Linked DNA regions of Homo sapiens. The protein of the gene in region 5 purifies or fractionates together with the protein of the main gene of each other region. This does not show direct contact. Each region holds a gene or a part of one and is shown on either strand. Other genes may lie near its edges. The genes, in order: SAR1B, BMPR1A, STX6, FGFR2 and FAM171B.

Evidence for each region.
Region 1: the proteins of FAM171B (region 5) and SAR1B purify together in Homo sapiens (affinity purification with mass spectrometry; one large-scale study listed by BioGRID and IntAct). This does not show direct contact.
Region 2: the proteins of FAM171B (region 5) and BMPR1A purify together in Homo sapiens (affinity purification with mass spectrometry; 2 studies listed by BioGRID and IntAct, with this or other methods). This does not show direct contact.
Region 3: the proteins of FAM171B (region 5) and STX6 purify together in Homo sapiens (affinity purification with mass spectrometry; 2 studies listed by BioGRID and IntAct, with this or other methods). This does not show direct contact.
Region 4: the proteins of FAM171B (region 5) and FGFR2 purify together in Homo sapiens (affinity purification with mass spectrometry; 2 studies listed by BioGRID and IntAct, with this or other methods). This does not show direct contact.

Annotation. Positions count from the first base shown.
Region 1 is NC_000005.10:134,617,478-134,623,667, reverse strand, and holds part of SAR1B (small COPII coat GTPase SAR1B), read left to right. Parts: intron 1-2,615; coding exon 2,616-2,735; intron 2,736-6,190. UniProt on the Homo sapiens protein: Small GTPase that cycles between an active GTP-bound and an inactive GDP-bound state and mainly functions in vesicle-mediated endoplasmic reticulum (ER) to Golgi transport.
Region 2 is NC_000010.11:86,761,922-86,768,111, forward strand, and holds part of BMPR1A (bone morphogenetic protein receptor type-1A isoform 3 precursor), read left to right. Parts: intron 1-6,190. UniProt on the Homo sapiens protein: On ligand binding, forms a receptor complex consisting of two type II and two type I transmembrane serine/threonine kinases.
Region 3 is NC_000001.11:180,983,178-180,989,367, reverse strand, and holds part of STX6 (syntaxin-6), read left to right. Parts: intron 1-1,022; coding exon 1,023-1,129; intron 1,130-4,596; coding exon 4,597-4,691; intron 4,692-6,190. UniProt on the Homo sapiens protein: SNARE promoting movement of transport vesicles to target membranes. Targets endosomes to the trans-Golgi network, and may therefore function in retrograde trafficking.
Region 4 is NC_000010.11:121,586,793-121,592,982, reverse strand, and holds part of FGFR2 (fibroblast growth factor receptor 2 isoform 1 precursor), read left to right. Parts: intron 1-6,190. UniProt on the Homo sapiens protein: Tyrosine-protein kinase that acts as a cell-surface receptor for fibroblast growth factors and plays an essential role in the regulation of cell proliferation, differentiation, migration and apoptosis, and in the regulation of embryonic development.
Region 5 is NC_000002.12:186,695,786-186,701,975, forward strand, and holds part of FAM171B (protein FAM171B precursor), read left to right. Parts: intron 1-6,190.

The DNA.
Region 1 (6,190 bases), on a different chromosome or scaffold from region 5:
TTAGCTAGTTTACCTATATGCTTTAATGCTTTATGTCATTTAATCCTTACAGGATTATTATTAAAATGCATGTTCCATAAAGTAGCTTGTACACCATAAATAGCAGTTTTTAATAAGCCAAATGAGACTTCTTTACCCAGCAGTTCTTTTTTTTTTTTTTTTTAATTTTATAGAGACGGAGTCTTGCTATGTTGCCCAGGCTGGTGTTTTGTTTGTTTGTTTGTTTCTGAGATGGAGTCTCGCTCTGTCGCCCAGGCTGGAGTGCAGTGGCGTGATCTCAGCTCACTGCAAACTCCACCTCCCAGGTTCAAGCGATTCTCCTGCCTCAACCTCCCGAGTAGCTGGTACTACAGGTGTGTGCCACCACACCAGCTAATTTTTGTATTTTTTGTAAAGATGGGGCTTTGCCATGTTGGCCAGGCTGGTCTTAAACTCCTGAGCTCGAGTGATCTGCCCACCTCAGCCTCCCAAAGTGCTAGGATTACAGGCATGAACCACTGTGCCCAGCCTTGCTACAGTTTTTTCTTTTTCTTTTTTTTTTTTTTTGAGACAGAGTCTCACTCTGTTGCCCAGGTTGGAGCGCAGTGGTGCGATCTCAGCTCACTGCAACCTTCGCCTCCTGGTTCAAGCAATTCTCCTGCCTCAGCCTCCCGAGTATCTGGGATTACAGGCATATACTATCATGCCTGGCTAATTTTTTGTATTTTTAGTAGAGATGGGGTTTCACCGTGTTGGCCAATCTGGTCTCGAACTCCTGACCTCAAATGTTCCACCTGCCTTGGACTCCCAAAGTGCTAGGATTACAGGCGTGAGCCACTGTGCCCGGCCTCCTTGCTACAGTTTCTAGGTAATATTGGTCCTTTGTTCTCTATAGTTATCTCCTTTAATTTTATTTATATAATAGTGCTTATTTGTGTTGAGCCTCTTTATATATGAAGCAATAGTTAAGAATAGTTAAGGCCGGGCGCGGTGGCTCACGCCTGTAATCCCAGCACTTTTGGAGGCCGAGGCAGGCAGATCATGAGGTCAGGAGATCAAGACCATCCTGGCTAACACGGTGAAACCCCGTCTCTACTAAAAATACAAAAAATTAGACAGGCATGGTGGCACGCGCCTGTAGTCCCAGCTACTTGGGAGGCTGAGGCAGGAGAATCGCTTGAACCCAGGAGGCGGAGGTTGTAGTGAGCCGAGATCATGCCATTGCACTCCATCCTGGGTGACAGAGCGAGACTCCGTCTCAAAAAAAAAAAAAAAAAAGAATATGGGCTTTGTAATTATACAAATATGTTCAATTACTCGATTGAACAAATATGTTCAATTACTTTTAAATTATGTAATCTTGGGCAAATTACTTTTTCGTGACACTCATAGTAGTGACAGTCATAGAAGTAGATTCCTTAATGATAAAATATATATATAGTTCTGCCCCCAAAACTAAAAGATTAGGACATCAAACAATTTACTTCTTAGACTTAAGCATGGACAAAGGAGTAAGTGTTATTTTAGTATGAATCTATTCAAAAACGGATGGCCTGAAACTATAATTGCCTAATGTCTTTAAAAGTTTGTTTATTTCAGTCAGGTGTGGTGGCTCACATGTAATTTTGTGGAGGTTAGACCATTAAACATGTAAAAAATAAAGTTTGGCTGGGCGTGTGGCTCACGCTGATAATCCCAGCACCTTGGGAGGGCAAGGTGGGCAGATCACTTGAGGCCAGCCTGGCCAACATGGTGAAACCCCATCTCTACCAAAAAATACAAAAATTAGTCAGGCGTGGTGGTGCACACCAGTAGTCTCAGCTACTCAGGAGGCTGAGGTGGGAGGATCACTTGAGCCCAGGAAGTTGAGGCTGCAGCAAGCTGTAATCATGCCACAGCACTCCAGCCTGGGCAACAGAGTAAGACACTGTCTCTAAATAAATCAATTAATTAAGTTCAATATGAAATTTAGCAGTTCAATTCCAGTCTATTATAAATTGGTCAATGCTGCCTTTTTTCTATTTATCAATTTATCTATCAATCAATACCTGATTGATACTTCTAAAATTAATCAGCATTTTGGCATTGTAGATATGTTAAGGCAAAACACATATTCTATTGACTGGGTTGAAGTTTGGTTTTATAATTATCTGAAGTCCCAAATCATGAATAGATTTATTTATTTATTTATTTATTTATTTATTTATTTATTTTTTGAGACAGAGTCTCACTTTGTCGCCCAGGCTGGAGTACAATGGCATGATCTCAGCTCACCACCGCAACTTCTGCTTCCTGGGTTCCAGTGATTCTCCTGCCTCAGCTTCCCAAGTAGCTGGGATTACAGGCATGCGCCACCACACCTGGCTAATTTTTGTATTTTCAGTAGAGACGGGGTTTCACCGTGTTGGCCAGGCTGGTGTCAAACTCCTTACCTCAGGTGATCCGCCCACCTCGGCCTCCCAAAGTGCTGGGACTACAGGTGTGAGCCACCGTGCCCGGCCATGAATAGATTTAAAATAGCTTTTTTAAAACTGAAAATAGGTTTAGAACTTCAAGCTTAATTGGGCCAAATTTAAATTCATTTGGATAATTAGTATCAGATATCACTTTGACCAATCATAGCTCTTGCTTTGCAGGATTATATAAGAAAACTGGTAAACTGGTATTTCTTGGATTGGATAATGCAGGAAAAACAACATTGCTACACATGCTAAAAGATGACAGACTTGGACAACATGTCCCAACATTACATCCCAGTAAGTATATTCCTACATACAATGTGATACTTGATCAAATGATGCTGAGTCATATGCACTAACCAAAAGTGTTTTGTTTCAGACAGGGTCTTTCTCTGTTGCCCAGGCTGCAATGCAGTGGTATGATCACAGTTCACTGCAACCTCTGTCTCCTGGGCTTAAGCCATCCTCCCGTCTCCCAAGTAGCTGGGACCACAGGCATGTGCCACCATGCCCAGTTAATTTTTATATTTTTTCAGAGACCAGGTTTCGATATGTTTCCCAGGGTGGTCTTGAACTCCTGAGCTCAAGTGATCAGCCTCTCTCAGCCTCCGAAAGTATTGGGATTACAGGCGTGAGCCACTGCACCTGGCCAAGTTTTTTGTTTGGGGGGCATTTTCTGGTAGATAAATTATGATCAGGTGATTTGACCTGTTCCTAAAATAATAAATTATAGGTGACCTCGCTCCCAGGGAGAATATTTAGATCTTGAATTAGTACTCATACCTTTTTATCAGCTAGTACTCCCTTCTCTAGCTTGAGGAATTAAAAAGTTTTTGTCTGAGGGATTGTGACATGATTGGTAAATAGTCCACCATCGCCTTGTTTACATAACCTGAATTTTTTCTTTCAGATTTTTTTTTTTTTGAGGTGGAGTCTCACTCTGTCGCCCAGGCTGGAGTGCAGTGGCACGACCTCCGCTCACTGTAAGCTCCACCTCCCGGGTTCACGCCATTCTCCTGCCTCAGCCTCCCGAGTAGCTGGGACTACAGGCACCCACCACCACGCCCGGCTAATTTTTTGTATTTTCGGTAGAGACGGGGTTTCTCCGTGTTAGCCAGGATGGTCTTGATCTCCTGACCTTGTGATCCGCCTTCCTCGGCCTCCCAAAGTGCTGGGATTACAGGTGTGAGCCACCGCGCCCAGGCTTCTTTCAGATTTTAAAGCCATATTACTTTATTTTATTTGTGTAGAGACAGGGTCTTGCTCTGTCATGTAGGTTGGAGTGCCGTGGTATGATCATAGCGCACCATTTAAACTCCCAGGTGCAAGTGATCCTCCTGCCTCTGCCTCCCAAAGTGTTGGGATTAAAGATAGGAGCCATTGCACCATGTACTATTTTAAGCACTAATTCAGTAGATACATTACAATTTTATACATGGCTGGTAACTCAATTTGTTAACCAGTTATTTTTCTAGTCTTAATAACCTCAACAATATCTAATGTACACCACAGAATTAATCTAAAGAAAACAAGGCATATATTGACACACAGGAAGTTTTAAAACAAGGGTGGGTGTGGTGGCTCATGTCTGTAATCCCAGCACTTTGGGAGGCTGAGGCAGGAGAATCACTTGAGCCCAGGAGTTTAAGACCAGCCTGGGCAACATACTGAGACTCCATCTCTACAAAAACAAAAACAAAAAATTAGTCTGGCATGGTGGCATACACCTGTAGTCCTAGGTACTTGGGAGGCTGAGGCAGGAGGATCACTTGACCCTAGGTGTTCAAGGCTTCACTGAGCTATGATTGCACCACTGCACTCCTAACCTGGGCAACAGAGTGAGACCCTGTCTCTAAAGAAACAAAAAATACCAAAAAAATTGAAAGTTTTTTTTTTTTTGAGATGGAGTCTTGCTCTGTTGCCCACGCTGGAGAGCAATGGCACGATCTCGGCTCACTGCAACCTCTGCCTTCTGAGTTCAAGCAATTCTCCTGCCTCAGCCTCCCAAGTAGCTCAGATTACAGGCATGTGCTACCACACCCAGCTAATGTTTTGTATTTTTAGTAGAGACGGGGTTTCAACATGTTGGCCAGGCTGGTCTCAAACTCCCGACCTCAGATGATCCGCCCACCTCAGTCTCCCAAAGTGCTGGGATTACAGGCATGAGCCACCACACTTGGCCAAAAATAATGTTTTTTAATAATGACTCTAATTTTTTTTTTTTCCTTTTTTGAGACAGAGTCTCACTCTGTTGCCTAGGCTGAAGTGCAGTGGCACCATCTCGGCTCCCTGCAACCTCTGCCTCCTGGGCTCAAGCAATTCTCCTGCCTCAGCCACTGGAATAGCTGGGATTACAGGCATGTGCTACCAAGCCCAGCTAATTTTTGTATTTTTAGTAGAGACCAGGTTTCGCCATGTTGGCCAGGCTGGTCTCGAACTCCTGGCCACAAGTGATCCACCTGCCTTGGCCTCCCAAAGTGTTGGGATTACAGGCGTGAGCCACCACACTTGGCTGACTCTGTAAATTATTTAATAAATTTTATTTTGCATTTAAGGTTATGTAACGAATTTGAGAATAAAGTTAATGTTAAAGTGGGTAAATTATTAGAAACAGAAACCTAATTTAACCTGTGACCTTACTTTTACAGGTGAAAATTTTATGAATCAGATAGACACAGAGTTTAAAGACAAGTTAATCTATAGATTAATTATGAAATAGTAAGTGTAGCCTTAATAATGAATATAAAATTGAGAACTGGACCAAAAAGTAGATAATACTGTAATTATTTAGTCCAGTAAATGTTCAAAGAACAAAGAATGAGGATAGAACAAAACAAAGTATTTTATCTATAAAACAATTAGTGAGGTTGGAAAAGGAAATTGACAAATCTTTTTTTTCTTTTTATTTTTTTTGAGATGGAGTCTCGCTCTGTCACCCAGGCTGGAGTGCAGTGGCACGATCTCGACTCACTGCAACCTCCGCCTCCCAAGTTCACACCATTCTCCTGCCTCAGCTTCCCGAGTAGCTGGAACTACAGGTGCCCGCCACCACGCCTGGCTAATTTTTTGTATTTTTAGTAGAGACAGGGTTTCACTGTGTTAGCCAGGATGGTCTCGATCTCCTGACCTCGTGATCTGCCCGCTTCGGCCTCCCAAAGTGCTGGGATTACAGGCGTCAGCCACTGCGCCCGGCCAACAAATCTTTTTTTTATATTAGGAGAAAAAAGTGGGGCTTGGCAAGTAAGATTCTGATATAAGAACAATTCTGTTAAAGAAAAAATGATCATGGTGAAATTGAGTAGATAAAATTGTCTGCAAAAACAGCGTAATTTCCAACCTGGCCAACATCGTGAAACCCGTTCTGTACTAAAAATACAAAAATTAGCCGGACACGGTGGCACGTGCCTGTAATTCCACCTACTCGGGAGGCAGAGACAGGAGAATTGCTTGAACCCGGGAGGCGGAGGTTGCAGTGAGCCAAGATGGCGCCACTGCATTCCAGCCTGGGCGACAGAGGGAGACTCTGTCTCGAAAAAAACAAAAAACACAGAAAAAAAACCCAACAAAAACCAGCATAACTGGAAGAGACTACAGAGTGGTCTTAAATATTAGGTGTAAGTCATTTTTTAATTTTTTGACGTTGCTCTATTTCATTTATTCAAATATTTATTGAGCACCTACTTTATGTCAGACATTGTTCTGGATACTAGGGGAAAACAGATGCTATCTCAACCTTTCCTGCAGCTCACATT
Region 2 (6,190 bases), on a different chromosome or scaffold from region 5:
ATTTCCACTTGGCAGTTGTCTATATGGGTCTGGGGTTTGACAGAGGTTTGTGCTGGAGGTAGGCATTTGGGAGTCATTGCTGTATAGATTTTATATTCCAACAGTGGGAATTGGGTGGCTCTCTCAAGTGACTCTTGCTTACAAGTGACAGCCCTAACTCAAGTTAGCTTAAAGGAGGGAAAAGCTTCTCCCCACTAACCCCCATGATATTGAAAGGTCTAGAAATAGACATGGCTGGACCTAAGTGCTCAAATGATATAATTAATTGAGGTTGTCTTTTCTGTTCTTCACTTTTGTGGTCTCATTTCAGGCAGGTGCATATATCTGGCAGAGGAAGACATAGGTTATAGGTTATAGAATTACAGGTTATAGGTTATAGACCTCGTATCGAGAACTCCTTGTATGGTCTAGCAAAGAGCCTAAAACAGCATTGAGAATTTTTTTTCTTTCTTTTTGAGACGGAGTCTTGCTATGTTTCCCAGGCTGGAGTGCAGTGGTGCGATCTGGGCTCACTGCAACCTCCGCCTCCTGGGTTCAAGTGATTATCCTGGCTCAGCTTCCCGAGTAGCTGGGTTTAACAGGCGCCCGCCAATACGCCTGGCTCCTTTTTGTATTTTTAGTAGAGACAGGGTTTTGCCTCGTGGGCCAGGCTGGTCTCAACTCCTGACCTCAGGTGATCCTTCCGCCTTGGCCTCCCAAAGTTCTGGGATTACAGGTGTGAGCCACTGCGCCTGGCCAGTCTTGAGAAATTTCAACTTAAGGCCTGGGTAGAGAAGATAGACATTAAATAATTATCTAGTTGTAGTTATGTTAAGATCTACAAAAAGGAAGTCCAGGGAATGTTACAAGACTGATAAGGGAAGCTGGGCTGTTCAGGATGCGGGTACTTTGGAAGGCTTTCCTGAGAAAGGTAGCCCGCAGAGTGAGACCTTAGGCAAGAAAGGACAAGGAGACTGTTTTTGGAAGTATTCAGTAGTATTTATTTATTTATTTGAGACGGAGTCTCACTCTGTCGCCCAGGCTGGAGTGCAGTGGCGTGATCTTGGCTCACTGCAACCTCTACCTCCCGGGTTAAGCGATTCTCATGCCTCAGCCTCCCAAGTAGTTGGGGTCACAAGCGTGAGCCACCACGCCTGGCTAATTTTTGTATTTTTAGTAGAGACGGGGTTTCGCTGTGTTGGTCAGGCTGATCTCGAACTCCTGACCTCGTGATCCGCCCACCTCGGCCTCCCAAAGTGCTGGGATTACAGGCATGAGCCACTGCGCCCGGCCAGAAGTATTCGGTAAAGTGAGCAGTTTTTGCAGCTTTTTAAAAATTTTAAAGGCAATACATCTATTGTGGGTAATTTGGGAAGTATAAAAAGCCATAAAGAAGCAGCGGAATGATTAAGTTTCAGCTTCTAATTTTTTATAAATAATGTCTGATACTGGTTTTACTACTGAGTACCTATTCAATCACGGATGCCACACTAACCCAATCCGAATCTTCGTTTCTTTATCTTAAAAAATAGAAGGAACATGGTGAACTTTAAGATAATTTTTCTGCTTAAAAAAAGAAAAAGAAAGAAAATATCTTGACTTGCAGCACAGTTAGCTGCCGAAATTGAAGGTCATATAATGCTTTTGGTCCTAATGACATCACTGGACTTCTGACTTTTGGCTGAAGAATCACGCCAGCCTTGGCAGTCCTTGCAAGTACCAAAGGGAGTATGGCTTATGCCTGCGGTGCCCTTCCCGTATCCTGCTTTCTTACCTCCTTTTTTGAGCATTAATTTTTTTTTCTTTAGCCTTTGGGTAAAGTATCAAAATGTTGAGAAGATAGACTCTCAATTTTGAAGGTGAGAAATCTGTAGGAGACTTGGATAGTTGTTTTTTTTTTTTTTTTTTTGAGACGGAGTCTCGCTCTGTCGCCCAGGCTGGAGTGCAGTGGCGCATGTTGGCTCACTGCAAGCTCTGCCTCCCGGGTTCACGCCATTCTCCTGCCTCAGCCTCCTGAGTAGCTGGGACCACAGGAGCCCGCCACCACGCCTAGCTAATTTTTTCTATTTTTTAGTAGAGACAGGGTTTCACCGTGTTAGCCAGGATGGTCTCAATCTCCTGACCTCGTGATCCTCCCGCCTCAGCCTCCCAAAGTGCTGGGATTACAGGCGTGAGCCACCACATCTGGCTGACTTGGATAGTTTTGATACTGTTTTATGTATATTAAGATTTGTAGGTAGTTTTCTTACTAGTAATTAAAATGCTTTGTAATGTATTTCAAGAGTATAGGGTCTTGAGTGTTTTAAATTTGTATATAAGAATGTTTTAGATTCCTGGCTAAAAGAAGCTCTTGTTAGAAAATATTAAAGTAAAGGCTGTTAAATTTTGGTGAGGCTCTTAATGTCTGCATTTTTCAAGAATCATTTAAAAATGTCATGAAATAAAAATATTTCAGTGGTAACTGTTCAGAAGTATCTTAAATGTATACCAAATCAATGAAATATAATCGCTGGGTGACAGATTATTCTTCCTTCATTTTATAATCTTTTATTTAATAAAAATGTGGGGGAAAAATTGCATGTTGAAGTTGTACGTGTATATTTTAGCAAAAACTGTTAATCTTTCTGAAGTACTGCTTTGGTCATCATCCCTATTTGTTAAATATTTTTCCCTGTTTTCTTATTTGCTTACAATAGAAAATCCAGAATATCTTGGACTGGTCTCCTGCTCTGGCCAAGTCAGCCTTTTCTGCTTTGCTTCCTTTCCTACTATTTTATCAGCCTAAGTCACGTAAATATCCGATTCAGGTTTGGGTTCAGAATCCTTAGACCTCTACTGTCCACTACAATAGATAGCCACTACCACATGTGGCTGTTGAAGACTTGAACTGTGGCTAGTCTAAGTGTGAATTACGTACCAGATTTTGAAGATAGTACCAAAAGATGTAAAATATCTCATTATGCTTTTAAAATATTGGTTATATAGTGAGATGATACTGTTAGGGATACATTGGATTAAAGAAATATATTAAAACTGATTTTGGCCGGGCATGGTGGCTCATGCCTGTAATCCCAGCACTGTGGGAGGATTGCTTGAGCCCAGCAGCTTGAGACCAGCCTGGGTAACGTGGTGAGACCTTGTCTCAGTTAAAAAAACAAAACTGATTTCACAGGATTCTTTTTACTTTTTAAATGTGGCAACTAGAAAGTTTAAAATTACACGTCATATTGGACAGTACTGCCTTTGACTTTCCTTTCCCTGGTTCTTTGCCCATCAGAATGCTTTAAAATCTAGTATAAATCCTTGGCCAGGTGCTGTGGCTCACGCCTGTAATCCCAGCACTTTGGGAGGCCGAGGCGGGAGGATCACGAGGTCAGGAACTCGAGACCAGCCTGACCAACATGGTGAAACCCCATCTCCACTAAAAATACAAAAATTAGCCGGGTGTGGTGGCACGCCTGTAATCCCAGGTACTCAGGAGGCTAAGACAGGAGAATCACTTGAACCTGGGAGGTGGAGGTTGCAGTGAGCCGAGATTGCACCATTGCACTCCAGCCTGGGCGACAGAGTAAGACTCTGTCTCAAAAAAAAAAAAAAAAAAAAAAGAATATTCCTCTCTCTCCTATGAAGCCCTCCTCAGTGGTCCAAGCCTCATAGTTGGCTCTTTGCTGCATCATTATTTGAAGATAATCTTTTGGTATATTAGATTTCTTTACTACAAACCTTCTCAGAACTTTTAATATGCTAATACACATGGTGAAACTCTAGTATAGTTTCCCTAACTACGTATTACCATAGAACTGTGTGTTTTCTGTTAACAGAAGTTACACATATTTGTGGTTGAAATTTCAAACAATACAGAAATGAAGTAATGAAAGTCTTCTGTAATCATGCTTCACCTGTGCCCCAAGATTGCCACTGTTGAAAGTATAGAGCTAGAAAAAATTTTCTTTTCTGTTGCCTTCTTTCTTTTTTTCTGTCCCCATTTCCTAAAATGGGGTCATACGATACATCCTTATCTTTAAATTTATTTTCACTGAATATATAGGGGGATTCTTTTTATGTCAGTAAATTTCAATTTCCTCATTCTTTTTTTTTTTTTTGAGGGAAGGTCTTGTTCTGTTGCCCAGGCTGCAGTGGTGCTGTGGTGCAAACAGCTCACTGCAGCATCCAACTCCTGGGCTCAAGCAATCCTCCCATCTCAGCCTCCTGAATAGCTGGGACCAGAGGTGCATGCTACCATGCCCAGCTAATTAAAAAATTTTTGTGTGTGTGGAGGTGGGATCTCACCATGATGCCTAGGCTGGTCTCGAACTCCTGGGCTAAAGTGATCCTCCCACCTAGGCCTCCCAAAGTGCTGAGATTACAGGTGTGAGGTGTTGTGCGCAGCCTTAATCATCTCATTCTTTATAGTAGTTAAGCAGTTATTCCATTTTCTGATTATACCTTAATTTTACTTACCAGTTTCGTGTTAATGAATAATTAGATTATTTCCATTTTTTTCTTTTGCATTGCAAATATGCTGTGGTGTTTGTACATATCCTTTGAGACTGTTTTTATTTTATGAAATGAATTCTTAGAAATGCATTTACTATAAGAGAAGCCGTGCAGATTGGATGGAAAGTGCCAAGCCACCCTGCAAAATCTTCGTAACCATTCATATTCCAGCCAACAGTATTTGAATATGTTCTCTCCTCCCAACATAATCATATCAGTCTTTTTTTTTTTTTTTTGAGACGGAGTCTCGCTCTTTCACCCAGGCGGGAGTGCAGTGGCGCTATCTCTGCTCACAGCAAGCTCCGCCTCCTGGGTTCATGCCATTCTCCTGCCTCAGCCTCCCGAGTACAGGCGCCCGCCATCACACCTGGCTAATTTTTTTTTGTATTTTTAGTGGAGACGGGGTTTCACCGTGTTAGCCAGGATGGTTTTTTTTTTTTTTTTGGAGACCGAGTCTTGCTCTGCTGCCAGGCTGGAGTGCAGTGGTGCCATCCTGGCTCACTGCAGCCTCTGCCTCCCGGATTCAAGTGATTCTCCTGACTCAGCCTCCGGAGTAGCTCAGACAACAGGTGCACGTCACCATGTCCAGCTAATTTTTGTATTTTTAGTAGAGACAGGGTTTCACCATGTTGGTCAGGATGGTCTTGATCTCGTGACCTCGTGATCCGCCCGCCTTGGCCTCCCAAAGTGCTGGGATTACAGGCGTGAGGCACCACGCCCGGCCATATCAGTCTGTTTTTATCTTTGCCAGTTTGCCAGCTGAAAAAACATTCATGATATAAGGTTTCTTTGCTGTTGTATGAATATTAAAAAACAAAAAATTTTAAGTTTCATTTGTCTTATACTCTCAACTTGTTATACGCTCCTTTGATTTTTGTGCTAAAATATTTCGTATTGCTAACAGTACACATGCATGCTTTGTACAAAGTAAATGTTCAGATATTTGTATCTGTTCATGGCAAAGGCGTCCAGAATATGCTACTGCAACATAAAAATTATTTGGAAACCTGGTGGCTCATGCTTGTAATCCCAGCACTTTGGGTGGCGGAGGCAGGAGGATCACTTGAGCCTAGGAGCTCTAGACCAGCCTGGGCAATATGTTGAGACTCTGTCTCTACAAAAATTTAAAAATCAATGAGATGTGGTGGTATGCACTTGTAGTCTCAGCAACTCAGGAAGCTGAGGTGGGGGGATCGCTTGAGCCCAGGAGTTCGAGACTGCAGTGAGCCATGATCTTACACTGCACTCCAGCCTGAGTGACAAAGCAAGACCCTGTCTCAAACAAACAAAACATATATTTTAATCTGGAAACATTTGAGAATAGCTTTTTTTTCCTCCTGAACTCCCTTGTCTGCCTAAAACTAGATCCTCCCCCAAAGAACTCAATTGTCATAACTTCCAGTTGTCATAAATCCCTTCCTTGGGAGTTTTGCAAGCAGGGAAGATGGTCTCTTGTCGCTGGAGAGAATTTGGCACCACACCTAAACAGACATTGTTATAAACTATCCTATGTCCAACTGTTGTCCTAAGGGTCCATTTGTCTTTCCTACATGTTACTTGTTTTCCTGCAACAGCCCATTGTTCTTTTCTAGTTCCAGTTCCCCTAGTAAGATGGTACACATGCCCCAAATTCGGACAGCCCCCTTGGGTCACATTTTTCTGTGAATTATTCTACATATGTGAATCAAATCTGTCATTTCTCTTGCAGATGTGT
Region 3 (6,190 bases), on a different chromosome or scaffold from region 5:
CACGCCACCACGCCCAGCTAATTTTTTTTTTGTATTTTAGTAGAGACGGGGTTTCACCTTGTTTCTCAGGCTGGTCTCGAACTCTTGAGCTCAGGCAATCCACCTGACTCAGCCTCCCAAAGTACTAGGATTACAGGCATGAGCCACCGCGCCCGGCCTATTGGTTGGTTTTGTTATATGTAAAGATGACTGCTTTTGTGTAGGTTAAGGGGTAGAAGGAAAATGAAATTGATTATGTCTGTTGATGCCTTTGATATGTAGCTGTATTAATAAAAGCAAGCTAATGATAATGTGTCTGGGGATTTGAGGAGCATGTACCCATTGAAACTATTGATTCTTAAATATTGTGTTTTATGTATACATGTAGTTTATATGTTCTTTTGTTCTTTACATTAGTATGTCTGCTTAACCAGTTGTCTACTTAAATTGCTATTAAACCCAGGAAATTTTTTTTCTATAGAAAGTGAGAAGAATGCAACACAACTAAAAGTAAATATTTGTCAGTCAGTAGTTGTCCTTGAGGTAACTTATTGCCACAGGGAATCCTTTCGTTTGTCCTTGAAGAGAGAGGAAAGACTGCATAGTTTCCCCACATCCAGAGATTTGCCAGACTCTCTTGTATTTAAGCTGTGGCAGTCTGTTGTGGATTGAGACCTTGATCTTGGCAATGGGCTTCCTCCTCCCAAACATCCCCATGTCTCAATGGTCATCTGCACGTGTGCTTTCAACCATTGTCTGCTCCATTATTGGACGTCAGCCAACCAGAGTAAATCTCTCTTGGTGGTTTCAAGCCCCGCTGACTGTTCACAAGTTGGATCAGCAGGAGATATCAGTAGCTTAACAATCCAGCCTTTTGAGCAGTGTGTTCTCAGAGGCAACGGTCTGGTCCTTTGATTTCTGGGCTTTGCTTCTGAATGTGAATTGTCCCAAGTTGGCAAAGAAACTAGCAGCTGCTAGAGTGCTGGGCTTGGAACCAGGTAAGATGGATTTTAATTGCTTATTTCCCATTTCTCTGGCACCAGTTGATCGTGGAACAGCAGGATGAGCAGTTGGAGCTGGTCTCTGGCAGCATCGGGGTGCTGAAGAACATGTCCCAGCGCATCGGAGGGGAGCTGGAGGAACAGGCAGTGTGAGTATTGAGACACCCCTCTCGCTTCAGTGAAATTGAGGGGCAGAGCCATCCTATGACACCCCTAAAAAGCCTGGCAGCTACGTGGCTGGTAAAATCAAAAGCTATTTTATTCATAGCTGCATTTTTATTCTGTTTTACAGATTAGCCTCCCCAAAAGAAGCAATTCTACTTCGTAAATTTTACTACAGGCTTTAGGTGAAGTTGTTATTATTTTTAAACACCTCCAAAAACAGACACAGATGTCTCTGAGCAGATACTCGAAGTATAGTTATGAATGGGAATATGAAACAGAGAAGCCTCTGTAACCTGTGGGAATTTTTGTTCCAGAGAGGATAGGACATGAGCTGACTTTATCATCCCATGACTCTCCTGCTATATTGAACAGACACGTTTTGCTTTGAATCTTAAATTATTGTAACTTTGTTTTTTTTTTTTAAAAAAAACTTACAAATTTAACGCCAGTTAATAAAAACTCTTTCCTCTCAGAAAAATAAATAAAAACAAAACATAACCTCAGTTTGTTTTTCCTTATGAACAATCCCTTTTGCACCCAGAAGTTCGATGGCAAAAACTGCATTCTTAAATGCTGCCACATCATTTTGTAAATCTTTTGAAAGAGAAAAATGAAAAAACAGTCCACCAGGATATTTCAGAAACTTTCCTGTCTCGATATTACGTTTATCATGACACATTGATTGATTATGAATTCTTAGTGGGCCCGTGTTCTACACCGGGCCTTCTGGAAGCCAAGGGATATAGAAGGGAACAGAGCAGACAAGACAACCCATCTCTGCCAAAGAGTTTGCCGCTTGCAGGGTAGAACGGATATTGGGTAAGTGGCGAGGGGTCATTAGGTGATGGCAGTGAAGTGGGAGGGCCCCTGTGATGGGGCCAGTGCATGCTGCCTGGAGAGCCCTGACTTAGCCCAAGGTCCCTGAGGAAGAGGGGTTTAACTGAAATCTGAAGGATGTGTGGATGCTAGCCAGGTGAGGTGAGAGTTGGTGTGGAGGCAGGTGGTGTGGGGTGTGTAGACCAGGAGGAAGAAAATGCACCTGTGAAGATGGAGAGGTGCACACGTGCATGGAGCAGAGAGGTTCCATGTGTCTGGAGGCAGAGAACAAACCAGGGAAGGCCTTGTCAGCATGGTAAGGAGGTACGACTACTTATTCTCAGCATAATGAGAGACCAGTGGAGGTGAGGTGAGGAGTGATGGTGTGATCAGGTGTGATTTAGATGATGTGCTGCAGTGGAGTCAGGTAGGGAGACCAGGTAGGAAGCTGGAGTAGCCAGAATCTGTTTCATGTCTATCTAAAATGGGTCCTGACCCTAAAGTTCAGTTTGAGGAGGGGAAAGGACTAATGGCCTGAGCTTCTCTGTTGATGAGGCAGCCTGGCTGGGCAGTGGGTAATAGAGTCAGAGGGACTTCCAGTTAAAGATGGTGCATTGACACACCCCTACCTCCACTCCCTCTCCACAGCTCACTAGAACAATAGTAAAGGGGTTTGTTTTTAAGGGCATGAAACCGCTGGGCATGGTGGTTCACACCTGTAGTCCCAAGTACTAGGGAAGGAGGCTGAGGTGGGAGGATTGTTTGAGCCCAGGTGTTTGAGGCTGCAGTGAGCTATGATGGCACCACTGTACTCCAACCTGGGTGACAGAGGAGACCCTGTCTCTAAAAAAATAGAAATAACAGATAAATGGGAAAAAGCATGGGATTTGGACTTAGACCTGTGCCATCCAGTATAATAGCTACTAGCCACATGTGGCTGTTGAGTAAGTGTTATGTGGCCAGTCTGAATTGAGATGTGCTCCAGAGGTAAAATGCTTACTGGATTTTGAAGACTTCATATAGAAAAATATAAAATAGCTTATTAATAATTTTTATATTACATGTTGAAATTACAGTATTTTGGCTATATTAAACTAAATACAACAGAATTAATTTCACCTGTTTCTTTTGAAATTTTTACAAACATGGCTACTAGAAAATGTAAAATGGCATATGTGACTCATATTTTTGTTGGATGGTACTGAGATAGATTTGGGCTAGCAACTTGGTTGGTGAGTGTCCATGGACTGAAGGTCGGATGATGTGCCTGATGATGTGCCTGTTTTGTCTTCAGTATGAAAAGTCATACCTAGCGCAGAAAGGTAGCTCTTGCTTTTTAGAGTTTGGCCCTGCCTGGATAGGCCTGCCAGCTGCAGCGCCAAGATGCTGCCAGGATCTAAAATGAGTTAAATATTTTTTAATTTGAAAATTTAGGTAAGGGACAAAGACTTATTTTAGTTGTCAACATATATGTAACAGTTGATTTAATGAAGAGTTGGTTGCCCTGAATCCTGCAAGGCTGTCAGGTGTCTATTGTGGGCACAGATCAAGACCAGGAGTTTCTAACTGCCATTGATGCTGTCAGAGTTAATACAGCCTTTTTAGTAAGACTGTTAGTACTAATTGGCATATTACATTCTAGCCTCAGAATAATCATTTACTAATCAAAAGTTGAAAAGTCTGGAATATTTAGTGACTTATGAAATAGGCACTGCTGAAATAGTATTTTGGGGTTTTCTTTCCCAGCTGCACATTGGACAGCAAATAGTGTAAGCCTGCTGGAGTCAGTTTTCCTAGTGGGAAATACTGGTTTCTCTGTGAGGACAGATGGGGAAATGCGCGTGTGCATGCACAGACACACTGTCACACACCCCATCAGGGATGTTAGTCCTGAGGCCTTCTGGGTTTATAATAAAGCACGTAGTGCCTTATAGGAGGTTATTTTATTAAAGTACATTCCTTAACTCATATTGACATAAAGTGCTTTTGTTTATTACCTGGTTCTCACAAGAGCCCTGTGAGGGAAGTTGAGCTGATAGGATTGCCCTATTTTACAGGTGAGGAAACAGTCCCAAAGAGTTATAGAGTATGTTGTCGAAGGTAGCAATGTAAACAAGTGGCAAAGCCTGGTTGTCTGCCTCAGATAGCATTGTTTCTACCACATTGCACTGCCACTGAGTTTGTGTTATTGTATAGACAGGTCTATAGTCTTGCAGTTCTGAAATCTAGGAAGCTCTAAAGAAATCTCGTTGTTTTTTTTTTCTTTAAATTTGCCGCAAGCTCATGTTACAGAAAAACCTTACCTGAACTGACTCCAACTGTGATTCCTCATAGTTTTCTCTGCAGAAATATTAAGTATCTGATTACGGGGACTGCCCCAGACCCTCCTGGTGGTGTCCTCCTAGTGGTGTCGACTAATACAAAGGATATGTAATTTAGGCTTTTTTTAATCCTGAGAATTCCAAAATCAAAATCCTATCTTGTCCCAAGGATTTTGGATAACAGAGTGAGGTCCTGAAACCCAGTGTTGCCTATTTTGTTTGCTAAAATGGAGGCCTGGTCCTTTTAACCCAGTGCAAGTGCACTGCCAAGGCTTTGTGCTTACCAGCGACCTTCTGTGTCTGCTTCTCTCTAGTATGTTGGAAGATTTCTCTCACGAATTGGAGAGCACTCAGTCCCGGCTGGACAATGTGATGAAGAAACTTGCAAAAGTATCTCATATGACCAGTGGTATGTATGGCGTTTAAAGCTTAAGCATTTGTACTTAATTCTAGAACTCTGTCTTGGGGGTGTTGTCTCATAGTTATGCCCATCCAGATCCCTTTCTTATTTTTTACAGATCCCTTTCTCTTTTTTTTGAGACAGAGTCTCACTCTTTCACCCAGGCTGGAGTGCAGTGGTGCCATCTCAGCTAACTGCAACCTCCACTGCCTCCTGGGTTCAAGCGATTCTCATGCCTTGACCTCCTGAGTAGCTGGGATTACAGGTGCGTGCCACCACACCCAGCTAATTTTTGTATTTTTAGTAGAGACATGGTTTCACCATGTTGGCTAGGCTAGTCTCGAACTCCTGACCTCAGGTGATCCGCCCGTGTCAGCTTCCCAAAATGCTGAGATTATAGGCGTGAGCCACCGTGCCTAGCTGATCCCTTTCTTATGGCACATTTTTTTTTTTTGTGATGCCTTAGAATCAGAGAATGGAAGACTTGTATGTGCAGTCTTTATCTTCTCCTTGTAGCTTTAACTTGGGAAAAGTTAAGGCTTTGTGATCCCCCACCGTGTTTGGTTTTTTTCCCAGTAGAGTCACTTTCGTTGTGTTTTTTTTTTTTTTTTTTTTTTTTTTTGAGATGGAGCCTCACTCTGTTGCCCAGGCTGGAGTGCAGTGGCGTAATCTCGGCTCACTGCAAGCTCTACCTCCCAGGTTCACGCCATTCTCCTGCCTCAGCCTCCCAAGTAGCTGGGACTACAGGCGCCCGCCACCATGCCCAGCTAATTTTTTGTATTTTTAGTAGAGATGGAGTTTCACCGTGTTAGCCAGGATGGTCTCGATCTCCTGACCTCGTGATCTGCCCGCCTCGGCCTCCCAAAGTGCTGGGATTACAGGCGTGAGCCACCGCGCCCAGCCCAGTAGAATAACTTTCTTTGCAGTTACAAAATCCTTCTTTATTTTACTGGTTTTTTAAGATTTCCTTGCCAAAATAGGGAACTTATGTAAAACAACAGTTAAGCCAGTTACTGTTTCTCCTGAACATTCTTTCATTGATAGAAAAATACCTACTACTTCAGAATAAGATGGCATGTGTGGATCTATTTTAAATTGTTATGTTTAAATCAATACTGAAATATTTCAGCAAATTTGCACCAGGATGAGGATGAATAAACAATTTTCATAATAGTTACTGTATAAGATATGTTCCAGTGACTCTTTACATGGGAAATAATATATTTTAAATTTTAAAAAATCCAGTATCTCTTCTTTATCTGGTGGGGGTTGCTTGGTGGAAGGAGAAACTGAGATGCTCCTTGAGGTAATCTGAATGTTCCCTGACTGTAGAGCACCTCCCTTGTGTTAGAACATGCCCTGTTTCTTGACACCTTTTCTTCTGTTGGTTTCCTACTGTCAGGTACATGTTATAAGGTCTAATAGGTTAGCTTTTTGAAGCAATATTTAAATACATATGCAGGTTTACTTTTCAGAAGTTTAACTCATAGGTTACATAACAGTTCTCT
Region 4 (6,190 bases), on a different chromosome or scaffold from region 5:
AGCAGATTTGGAACCTCTCTCCCAGCCCTTTGGAGACAACGTGAGCCAAGCCTCTACTTGGTGCTGCACTGAAATCTGTCATCAGTAGGGAATATTGGTAGCTGAGTTATTTTTCGAGTGGTAATCCGAGAATAAAACGGCAGATCCCAGCACTCATCGCCACTTAATGAACCTGTTTGTGGAGAGTCCACCTGGTGCCTGCCTGGCTTTAGGAACCCGCAGCAGTCCGAGTGGTGTCTGGGGTAAGCTGAGCTGCTCTGGGAACACATCTCGTGCGTGGGGTGAATGAACAGCACACTTACCCAGTGGGGTAGGCTGGGAGAGGACAGAGAGCCCAGCCTCCTTAGCTGGATCAGGACAGTTTAGGAAGGAGGGTTGCGTCCATCTGAGATGAGAGTTCTGAGAGACATGGGCTCCCCAGGAAGACCCCAGGCACTTGTCATTGAAGGATGAGGACCGAAGCACTTATCACCTGAAGCAATCGTGTGAGACTGGGGAACTTTTCGTTACACAGAGGGATGGCAGCTCTATAATTAACAGGTGTGGTGACATCTCCCTGCGTCTCTGGGAAGGGAATCTGGTAGGAGTTTGTGTCTGAGGCTTGTATAGCTACAGCTACAGGCCGATTATGGAACTGCCTCTTGGTGATTTGTGCTGGGACACCAGGATGAGTGTAATTTGCAGTGGTGATGCATTTTTACAGGGCTTTCATGTAAGAGGGAAAAAGTTCCTGGTTTCTGAAAGTCATGCCTGTACGTCTTTAATTTTGCTAATAATTAAAATGGATGTTTCCGTGATTGCTGGTTTTCCCTTGAGTGCGTGGCTCGGCAAAAACTGAGGAAGCTGAGCTGGGATTTCCTACGGTGTGGGCTTTAGGAGCAACCCAGGTTAGGGAAAAACTGTCATTTTTCATTTTGGCTTTTCAGGGCAGCGTTATTGTGAGTTTATTTCAACATAAAGTGTAAAATGGTCCCAGAGGATTTGTTTTACTGTATTTAATTCTTGAAGGAAGTTTAAAATTGTGTATACATGCAGGGAGGGACAGGTGAGGCAGAGGGAAGAAATCGTGGAAAGGGACGAAGTTCCCCGAGTGAGTCTTTGTGTAAGAATTTACATCCAACAATGTGGGTATTGTTGGAAGCAGGCCTGCTCAACCTGGGATCTGTGGATGCACTTATGGATCAGGAAGGAGGTCGATGAAGTTCTGGAAATTTTAGGTAATATTTTGTTAATGTCCTTTTGTGCATTTTTATGGGTTTATAGTTTCCATGAGCTATGAGTTCATTTGCATCCAGAATTATGAGATGGAAAAGAAAAGATGTCTTAGAGGAAGGTGCAAAACCTGGCAAAGAAGAGGCTTTGGAAAAGTATACAAGTCCCAGGCCTCAGTTTCCCTTTCTGTCGTCTGAGGGCTTAAGAAGATGATCTTTAGGGTCTCTTCATTAATAGTCATTGAATATTAATGTCCTCAGAAGTCTTCTGACTCTTCCACCAAAAGGTTGTTAGGAGATTTCCATTTGACCTGGACATAAAGAGCAATTAGCACAGGGGCTGGCATCCAGTAAGCACCGGGTGCATGGCCTTGTCGCCGTTGTCGCCAGGGAGCTGGGAACATGGGTCTTCCCAGTCCCGTGGGCTGGCTGTGCCAGGTGCCACAATGTCAAAAAACATCTAGGCTTTTGGAGACAGTTGAGAAGAAAGTTGTTTTTGGATGGAGGAGGCCCTTGGTGTTTCCAGGAAGCTGTGTTTGCTTTCTGTAGGGTCCCCACTTCCCCTCATCTGTTAGTCTAATACTGGCCACTGATTTGAGCCCTAAGACCAGTTCTTCTGTTGCAGGAGTTCGCTTTGGTGTCAGAGGTGATTAGGAAGGTCATTGAATTATAGATGAGAAAGGAGTTTTTAACAGCTGAAAATGGGCTCAGGTTTAGGCTCTGTGCTGGTGAATTGGAAGAGAGAGAGAGAGAGAGAGAGTGTGCGTGTGTGTGTGTGTGTGCGCGAGTGCGCGTGCGTGCGTGCGTGCCTGTGCCCCTGTCCATCAGTTCTCCATGATTAGAACTACTATAGCTTTGGTTAGCAGTAAGTTCCACCTTGACCTTCTGTGCACCAAGGTCTTATCTTGTAAGACTTTTTGGTTTGCTAATTTATTTGGAAGCTCAGTTTAGATAATGTCTATTGGATAGGAGAAAAATGTGACTGAGAAGTTCCAGGAAGAAGCCTGGGCCCTAACACTAGAGGGTCCTTTTCTTTTGGCCCCTCAGGGAAAGGTTATGTTTAGTCATCTTGGCTTTGTGCAATATCGTATCATATCATATGTCATATCATATATCATATATATCATTTGTCTTCTGGACACGTTCTGAAATAGTAGCAGTGGGGTTGGGCCCACTCAATTGACTTAAGAAAATAATCTCTAGAAGATTTTAGTTTTTAATATTTCAGATTAAATATGAGTTTTCCAGTTGGTCATTCATTGTTAATTTCCTTTTGGTCATTCATTGTTATAGGGCACCAGCAGAGGAGTGAAAACATGGTTATTGACTCGAAGGGGGGCAGTCCTCAATGCCAAGTACTATTCTGTTGATTAACATTATAAATATTTGAAGTCTAGTCAAGCTTGATTACCCTGAGAGGGGGCAACTCTTACTTTCAAGTTCTTCCTGACATTGTCACCTACTCTGGTTAATTAAGTCATTGTTGACATTAATGGCATCTTTGTTTACACCAACCCAGTAGGAGCTAAAATGAAAGGGCTTTTCAACCCTACACCCTTAATTACTTTCCCACCCTCCACAGAGTGTGACTCTGAAAAGTAACAACCTGAAAAAAAATGTAGTTTGTGTAGCAATTTTTTGTCAATCTTCTGAGAGGTGATGCTCTCCTGGACCAACGTGAGTTGGTCCAGAGTTCAGTAGCAGAAACGTCGAGGACAGGATCTACACAGAGACCTCCCTAAGTCAGATTTTTCCAGTATGGTTTAAGTCCTTTGTTAGAAGTATTGTAAATGCCATAATATTAACCATACGCATTTAATTGCAAGTTAAAAGAAAGGAAGAAAGAATATATCCGCATACCAAGAGTGAATGATTTAAAATAATCTTCTGTTTCGTATTATCTGCATCTTTGTTTTTCAATATGAGTGTTAATATTTAAGAGTTGACTGTAACTTGATAGTTAGCTTTGGAACAAGGACTTATTCTTGGTCAATTAAACCAAATACAGGCTTACGCAGTTAAATACACAATGAAGTACACATTCTTTATTAGTATATAAAGTGTTTCACAATTCATAGACCAAGAGCCATGTTTAATATTACTTATAGAGCAGAAATCTGGCAAGCCCAGAGAACTGGTACTTGTATCATTTTATACTGGCTCTCTCTGATTCAAATTTGGGGTATATGTGTGTGTTTCTGTTTTGTCTGTTTATTTCAACCAGTTAAAAGACAGAGCACTTACTATGCCAATGGCCCCGCATCAAGCCATAAGTAAAGACTTTATTCCTTTCAAGTCTTTCTGACCCAGTTGAGGGTGAGAATTCACAAAACCACAGCAATCCAATATGAGATGTTTTTAATATCAGACTTAACAAATAATTACATGGCTATGAAATAACTGGGGTCGTGTTTAAACTGGAAGTGTTTTGTTTAATGTTCGTAGTTTCAATAAAATGTATCCACTAGTCTTCCAGTTTGCAGACTGTTGTTTAGGTGTTTGTTTAGCCAGGGTAATTGTTAAAAACTCCCTCTAATCTAGCTTACCCTTACATTTCCATGGAAGCGAATTTTAGTCATTAAAGGAAAACATGGGAAATTGATTTTTGGGTGCCTGGCTGTTAAGCTAGGTAGGAAATATAGCTGGTGTGCTACTCTCCACTGTACTGGTCCGATTCTCGCCAGGGGGACATCTCTGTAGGCAGTTCAGAAATTATTTTTTGGAAGTTTTTTAGGCTATTCCACAGATAATTCTGATCCAGTAGGTTTTATGCAACTGTGCAAAATGCTTATGGTCTCTATTTTTTTTTCCTTGAGAGATGATTTTAGCCTTTGGTTTTTTGTTTGTTTTTGTTTTTTGAGACAGAGTCTTGATCTGCCACCCAGGCTGGAGTACAATGGTGCAATTGTACCCTCACTGCATTGTCAAACGTGGCTCACTGTACCCTCGGACTCCTGGGCTGAAGGGGTCCTCCAACCTCCTGAGTAGCTGGGACTACAGGCCTGGATAATTTTTAAAAATATTTCGTAGATATGGGGTTTCGCCATGTTGCTCAGGCTGGTCTCCAACTCCTGGCAGCCTTGGCCTCCCAAAGTGCTGGGATTACAAGTGTGAGCCACCACACCTGTCCTAGCCTTAAGTTTTGCATTTTTTTCCATCTTTTTGCTGTATCCCATATGATTTAGAGATTTTTGCTGTATCCCATGAGATTTAGAGATGGCTCTACTTTTTTTAGCTTTCCTAGCATTGAAATGCTTGGTGTTGCTAATCATACCCCATCTTTACCACACCATCTTCCTCCCTGACTTGCCTTCTTAGTGTAGTTTGGTCAAGAACTTGAGGCCAAGTTCTTTTTTTTTTTAAATTTAGCTTTTATTTTAGGTTTGGGGGTACATGTGAAGGTTTGTTATGTAGGTAAACTCGTGTCATGGGGGTTCGTTGTACAGATTGTTTCATCACCCAGGTATTAAGCCCAGTACCCAATAGCTATTTTTTCTGCTCCTCTCTCTCCTCCCACCCACCCTCCACCCTCAAGTAGACCTCAGTGTCTGTTGTTCTTTTCTTTGTGTTCATGAGTTTTCATCATTTAGCTCCCACTTATAAATGAGAATATGCAGTATTTGGTTTTCTGTATTTGGTTTATTGCTAAGGATAATGGCCTCTAGCTCCATCCATGTTCTTGCAAAAGACATGATCTTGCTCTTTTTTATGGCTGCATAGTATTCTATGTTGTATATGTACTACATTTTCTTTATCCAATCTGTTACTGATGAGCATTTAGGTAGATTCCATGTCTTTGCTATTGTGAATAGTGCTGCAATGAACATTTGTGTGCATGTGTCTTTATGGTAGAATGATTTATATTCCTCTGGGTATATACCCAGTAATGGGATTGCTGGGTCGAATGGTAGTTCTGCTTTTACCTCTTTGAGTAATCGCCACACGGCTTTCCACAATTATTGGGCTAATTTGCACTCCTACTAACAGTATATAAGTGTTTCCTTTTCTCTGCAATCTCACCAGCATCTATTATTTTTTGACGTTTTATTAATAGCCATTCTGACTTGTGTGAGATGGTATCTCATCGTGGTTTTGATTTGCATTTCTCTAGTGATGAGCTTTTTTTTTCATATGCTGGTGGGACGTATATATGTCTTCTTTTGAAAAGTGTCTATGTCCTTTGTCTACTTTTTATGTGGTTATTTGTTTTTCTCTTGTAAATTTAAGTTCCTTATAGATGCTGGACATTAGATCTTTGTTAGATGCATAGTTTACAAATATTTTATCCCATTACGTAGGTTGTCTATTTACTCTGTTGATAGTTTCTTTTGCTGTGCAGAAGCTCTTAAGTTTAATTAGATCCCATTTGTCAATTTTTGCTTTTGTTGCAATTGCTTTTGATGTCTTTGTCATGAAATCTTTGCCCATTCCTATGTCCAGGATGGTATATTGCCTAAGTTGTCTTCCGGGGTTTTATAGTTTTGGATTTGACATTTAAGTCTTTCTTCCATCTTGAGGTGATTTTTTGTATATGGTATAAGGAAGGGGTCAGCTTCAATCTTCTGCATGTGGCTAGCCAGTTATCCCAGCACCATTTATTGAATAGGGAGTCTTTTCCCCATTGCTTGTTTTCATCAGTTTTGTCGAAGATCAGATGGTCGTAGGTGTGCGGTAGGTGTGTGGCCTTATTTCTGGGCTCTCTATTCTGTTCCATTGGTCTACGTGCCTGTTTTTATACCAGTACCATGCTGTTTTGGTTACCGTAGCCCCACAGTATAGTTTGAAGTCAGGTAATGTGATGCCCCCAGCTTTGTTATTTTTGCTTAGGATTGCCTTGGCTATTCAGAGGCTAAGTTCTTTTAAGGAGAGGTCTGATTGAACAAGATGCTGGACAGGTCATTGTGGTGATCCTTCACGTCTTGAAGATGTCTCCTTCTGTAATAGACAAAAGTCACACTTTTTACAAGTTTCTCTTTCCT
Region 5 (6,190 bases):
TATGGTTTGGGTGAGGCTGCTGTTAGACATACTGTTCGCTAAAGTTAAGGAAATTGGATATATCAGATTGATTGGCCTCATTAATAGAGATATTTCATAAATTCACTATGAAGCCGAAGTCTGGGAGAGTGTTGGTGGGTTTTATGGTTTGCAGTATATTTTTATTTCAATGGACCTTTCAGGAATATTAAATGAATTTTGACTACTGTAATATATATATATATGTTGTGATTAGGGTTATGAACTACTGCAATAATATGAAACCTGAATCCAGCATGCAAATTAAAATGTTTGCTTTCTGATATTTGTGAGGGAATATTCTGAAAAAGCTGATTGTCTGGGAAATTAGCAGTTTTTGTTTTATTTACCTATTAGATTGAGATAAAGGAACCACACTCTTCGATAGATCAAACTAGAACCTGAGAAGTAACCTATGATGATTCTTCTTCCTCAAAAACTCTAATTACCCAAGCCAGTGGCAAACAAGGGAGTAATTCAATTGATTGCTGTTTTAGTTATTGGAATATTGAGTCTTATAATGCAACACAGCTTATAGACAAATGAAGTTAAAATATTCCTTTGAATGCATTGTGATCTCTCCATTGAACTGGTCTTCCTGTTTCAACCTTTGTTTCCCTACTGTCTGTTCTCCTCACACAGCTAGCGATCTTTAAAAAAAAAAAAAACATTAAATAGGATCATTTCTGCCCACACTCCTCCAATGGCTTCCCGTCTCTCTCATACTAGATGCCCAGATCGTGAAAATGGCCTACCAAGGTCTAGATCCTTTGTATCCTCCTTTTCCTCCCGTCTCCTTTAGCCCTTACCCTAACTCTCTCCACTGTAGCCACACTAGCTCTATTTTCTTTAGCTTGCAAGTGGACCCAAGTGTTTGGCCTTTGCACTTGCCATTTTCTCTGCCTGGAATTCTGGAACTTCACATTTTTCAGGTTTGCTCAAGTGTCTCAGTAACTGACAGACCTTTTCCTGACCAGGTGTTTAAAATAGTAATCTGCACATCCTTTTTGCTCTTACCCAGATTCATTCTCCTCCATGGTACTCATTATTCTCAGCTGTTCTAATAAGCCTGTTTTTCCCTTGATAGAACATAAGCTCTGTGAAAACATGGACTTTGTTTTGTTCACTGCTATATTTCTAGTATCTCGAAGAGCACCTGGTTGGTACCCATAGACATTCAACCATTTGTTGAATGGATGGACGGATGGATGGATGGATGGATGGATGGATGGATGGATGAATGAATGAATGAATTCACTTTCTCAGCATTTGTTCGTCTTCATTGGATAAATTCTCCATTGGAGTTTAGCAGGGGATTTATAAAGATAAACGTTATGTAGGAAAGTTTGTAAGTAGAAGTTATAAAGTATGTAAATTTTGGATCTTTAATTTTAGTTAATTTCAGTGTTTATCTTATGCTGACTACAGAAAACTGATTGATACCTATACTTGGGCCTACTTATTGGGTTTTGTGAAGAATTTGGGGTTTTTTTTGAGACAGGGTTGAGTGCAGTGGCGTGATCATGGCTCAAGTCAGTCTCAACCTCCTGGGCACAGCCTCCTGAATAGCTGAACTACAGATGCGTGCCGCTGGGCCCAGCTAATTTTTAATTTTTTTCTTTTTGTAGAGATAGGGTCCTGCTTTGTTGCTCAGGCTAGCCTCAAACTCTGGAACTCTGGGCTCAAGCAATCCTCCCATCTCAGCCTCCCAAAATGTTGGTTTACAAGCATGAACCATAATTCTTTACCTGAGTATACTTAATCTTCTTATGACCTAGGAGGATTTTAACATATATACCTTTAAATAGCTGTGATTGAGCTTGCATTCATTCTTTACCGCTGTATGATGCTTCTGATTCTTTGGACATGCCACATGAAAAACTGTAGGACTTTTCTCAGGCAAAATTTAGAAAACAAATATGACACATTCAATGACTGATATATGACTAAGCCTTATCAGTCCATAGTAGAGAAACTCACCATTGCCTTTGCTTAGTATTCTCTGGATTTTATTATTCTAAAAATTTATGTCTCTTTGTATTGCTGAGAAACAAGAAAGCAAGATTAAAAAAAAACTTGAATGTGAACATTTTTTAAAAATCAGGATTTAAAAAAGTACATTTCCATTTTCTCATTAACTTATAAAAACTCCATCTTCAGAGAGCAGTGAAAATAAAGACTAAGGTTGGTATCCATCAAATCAATTGTTTTCTCCAGTGTATACAACAGCTCTTATTTCTCCATCTGTACCAGTATTTGTTAGAAATATTTGAGGGTCCTGAGAAGAATTAATCTGGGAGCTAGTGGTAGTTGGGACAACCATATTATATTAATTCTGATGGCCCATTAGATGGGAGGCATGCTGGGGTTGGGGGAGAGAGGAGCTGGAGAAAAATAATGAGCTCCATTTAAAATTCTCCATGTGAAGCAGAGACACAGGGGATCTCCAGGGATCATAGAAATGTCTTTTCAGTACAGAGAAAGCTTCTTGAGAGGTATATTTTCATGGTGTGAAAATTTTTGATTGCATATTTCAGTGATATCTATTTTTAAACTTTTTATTTCGCAAGATGTTAAATATATAGAAAGTAAACAGGATAGTGTAATAAAAGCCTATACCTGTCACCTAGCTTTAACAATGGTCAAAATTCTGCCATTGTTTTTTCACCCATACTTCTACCTGTTTCCACTACGTGGGATTTGTTTTTAATTTTTAATTTTTATGGGAACACAGTAGGTGTATATATTTATGGGCTACATGAGATATTTTGATACAGGCATAAAATGTATAATTATCACATCAGGGTAAACATTTATCATTTGTGTTACAAACATTCCAGTTATACTTTCAGTTATGTTAAAATGTACAATAAGTTATTGTTTACTATATTTACCCTGTTGTGCTATCAAGTAGTAGATCTTATTCGTTCTACCTGACTATATTTTTATACTCATTGACCATCCCCACTTCTTCCCCACTCCCAATACCCTTCCCAGACTCTGGTAACCATCATTCTAATCTCTATCTCCGTGAGTTTAATGGTTTTACATTTTAGTTCCCACAAATGAGTGAGAATATGCAAAGTTTGTCTGTGCCTGGCTTATTTTACTTAATGTCCTCCTGTTCCATTCATGTTGTTGCAAATGAGAGGATCTGATCCTTGTTAATGGTTGAATAGTACTCCATTGTGTATATGTATCACATTTGCTTTATCCACTATCTGTTAATGGACACTTAGGTTGCTTCCAAATATTGGCGATTGTGAATAGTGCTGCAATAAACATGGCAGTACAGATATCCCTTCAATATACTGATTTACTTTCTTTTGGGTATATACCTAACAGCTGTATTGCTGGATCATATGGTACCTCTATTTTTAGTTTTTTGAGGAACCTCCTACTGTTCTCCATAGTGGTTGTACTAATTTACATTCCCACCAGTGGTGTACAAGGGTTTCTTTTTCTCCACATCCTCATCAGCATTTCTTATTGCCTGTCTTTGGATAAAAGCCATTTTAACTGGGATGAGATGAGATCTCATTGTAGTTTTGATTTGCATTTCTCTGATGATCAGTGATGTTGAGACCTTTTCATATACCTGTTTGCCATTTGTGTGTTTTCTTTTGAGAAATATCTATGCAGATCTTTTGCCTACTTTTAAATAGGATTATTGGGTTTTTTTGCCTATTGAATTGTTTGAGTTCCTTATATATTCTGGTTATTAATCCCTTGTCAGATGGATAGTTGGCAGATACTTTCTCCCATTCTATGGGTTATCTCTTCACTTTGTTGATTGTTTCCTTTGCTCTGCAGATGCTTTTGATGTGATCCCATTTAACCATTTTTGCTTTGGTTGCCTGTGCTTGTAGGGTATTACTCAATAAATCTTTGTGCAGACCAATGTCCTGGAAAATTTCCCCAGTGTTTTTTTGTGGTAGTTTCATAGTTTGAGGTCTTAGATTTAAATCTTTAATCCATTTTGATTTGATTTTTGTATATGGTGAGGGATAGGGGTCTAGTTTTATTCTTCTGCATAAGGATATCCAGTTTTCCCAGCACTATTTATTGAATAGACTGTCCTTCCCCTAATGTATGTTCTTGGCAACTTGGTTGAAAATGAGTTCACTGTAGATGAATAGATTTATTTTTGGGTTCTCTATTCTGTTCCATTGGTCTCTTTGTCTGTTTTTATGCCAGTTACAATGCTGTTTTGGTTACTATGGCTCTGCAGTATAATGTCAAGTCAGGTAATTTGATTTCTCCAATTTTGTTGTTTTTTTTTTAGCTCAGGGTGGCTTTGGCTATTTGGAGCCTTTTGTGGTTCCATGTAAATTTTAGGTTATTTTTTTCTATTTCTGTGAAGTATGCCATTGGTATTTTGATAGAGATTCCATTGAATCTGTAAACTGCTTCGGGTAGTATGGACTGAGTTTTGTTTTTTTTTTCTTAATAGGTCCTTTTAGAGGTAAAATGTACATATGTGAAATGTACATATTTTAGTGTACACTCTTGACAAAAAGATATACCCATATAAACATCACCCTATTGAGATATAGATGTTTATATCACCTTAGAAAGTTTCTTCATAGCCCCTTCCCAGGCAATTCCTGTCCCTCACCTGGAGACATCTGATGTGTTGATTTCATTTTCATCATAGATTAATTTTGCATTTTATAGAACTTCACAAAATGGAATCCATGGCGTGTGTCCAGCTTCTTCAGCTTAGTATAATTTCCACAGATTTTATTCATTTTGTAGCACATTTAGTAGTTTATTCCTTTTTATTGCTGAATAAATTGTATGAATTACCACAGATCAGTTTATTGATTCTTCTGTTGAGGGGTATTTGGGTTGTTTCCAGTTTTAGCTATTCTGAATGAAGCTGCTATATTCTTATACAAATCTTTGTGTGAATATGTTTTCATATCTGTTGGATAAATGCCTAGGAGTGGAATTGCTTGGCCAACTGATACACTTTTGCGGTGAAAAATGTTTTTGTTCCCCAATATTCTATGTAGCAGGAACTTACCTCTCTTAAGATGATTACTTTAAAAATAATGAAATTTAATGTGTAGTATTACTGTATACTTTTTCTTAAAATAATTTAAACTTCTCTTTAACTTTTTTTTTTCATACGGACTCTTGCTCTGTTGCCCAGACTGGAGTGTAGTGGCACAATCTCAGCACTCTGCAACCTCTGCGTCCCAGGCTCAAGTGATTCTCCTGCCTTAATCTCCTAAGTAGCTGGGATTACAAGTGCCTGCCACCATGCCTGGCTAAGTTTTGTATTTTTTTTTAGTAGAGACGGGGTTTCACCATGTTGACCAAGCTGTTCTCAAACTCCTGACCTCAGGTGATCTGCCCACCTCAGCCTCCCAAAATGCTAGGATTACAGATGTGAGCTACTGCACCTGGCTAACTTTATTTTTAAATTGTACATATTATATTATAACAACATGATATTTTAATAGGCTTATACATAGTGAAATAGTTAACTATAGTCAAACAAATTAACATATCCATCCTCTTATGTAGTTACCTTTTTTGGTGTGGTAACAACACCAAAACCTACTCTCACCAAATTTCCAGTATACAGTACAATATTCTAACTATAGTCCTCATGCTGTACCTTAGGTCTTTAGACTTACTCATCTTACATATCTGCTACTTTGTACTTTTTGTCCTACATCTCACCATTTTCTCTTGCCCTTTGTAGCCACTTAAATCTCCCATCCATGAAAGCACTTATTTACTTACTTTTTTCTGTTCAAGGAATTTGAAAAATCAATAGGAAAAGTGGGATTTGAAATTAACCAAGTAATCATGCCTCAAAGGCCATATTCCCAGATGGGGTAATTATGATTTCTTTCCAGGATTTTAATAACCAAAAGGAGTTATTTCTTGGTATTGATAACAGGTTGAAAAACATATGCCATTGTGTTGAATTTGAGTCCAGTTTGTTTTAGTAGCAGTTTTATAGTGTTCTTAATGTGAGTAAGTAGAAACTGTACCAATTATTTTTCTGAAACAAAGCTCTTCCCCCAAGTATATAAATATTGAACTTGATTCTCTTTCAATGTTCTGTCTGACTAGGTTAGCTCTGGTATTGTTGTCATTCATTTACTTGGCTTAGTGTAATGTTTCTTAATTTCCTTTTGTCCAAGTTGCCTTA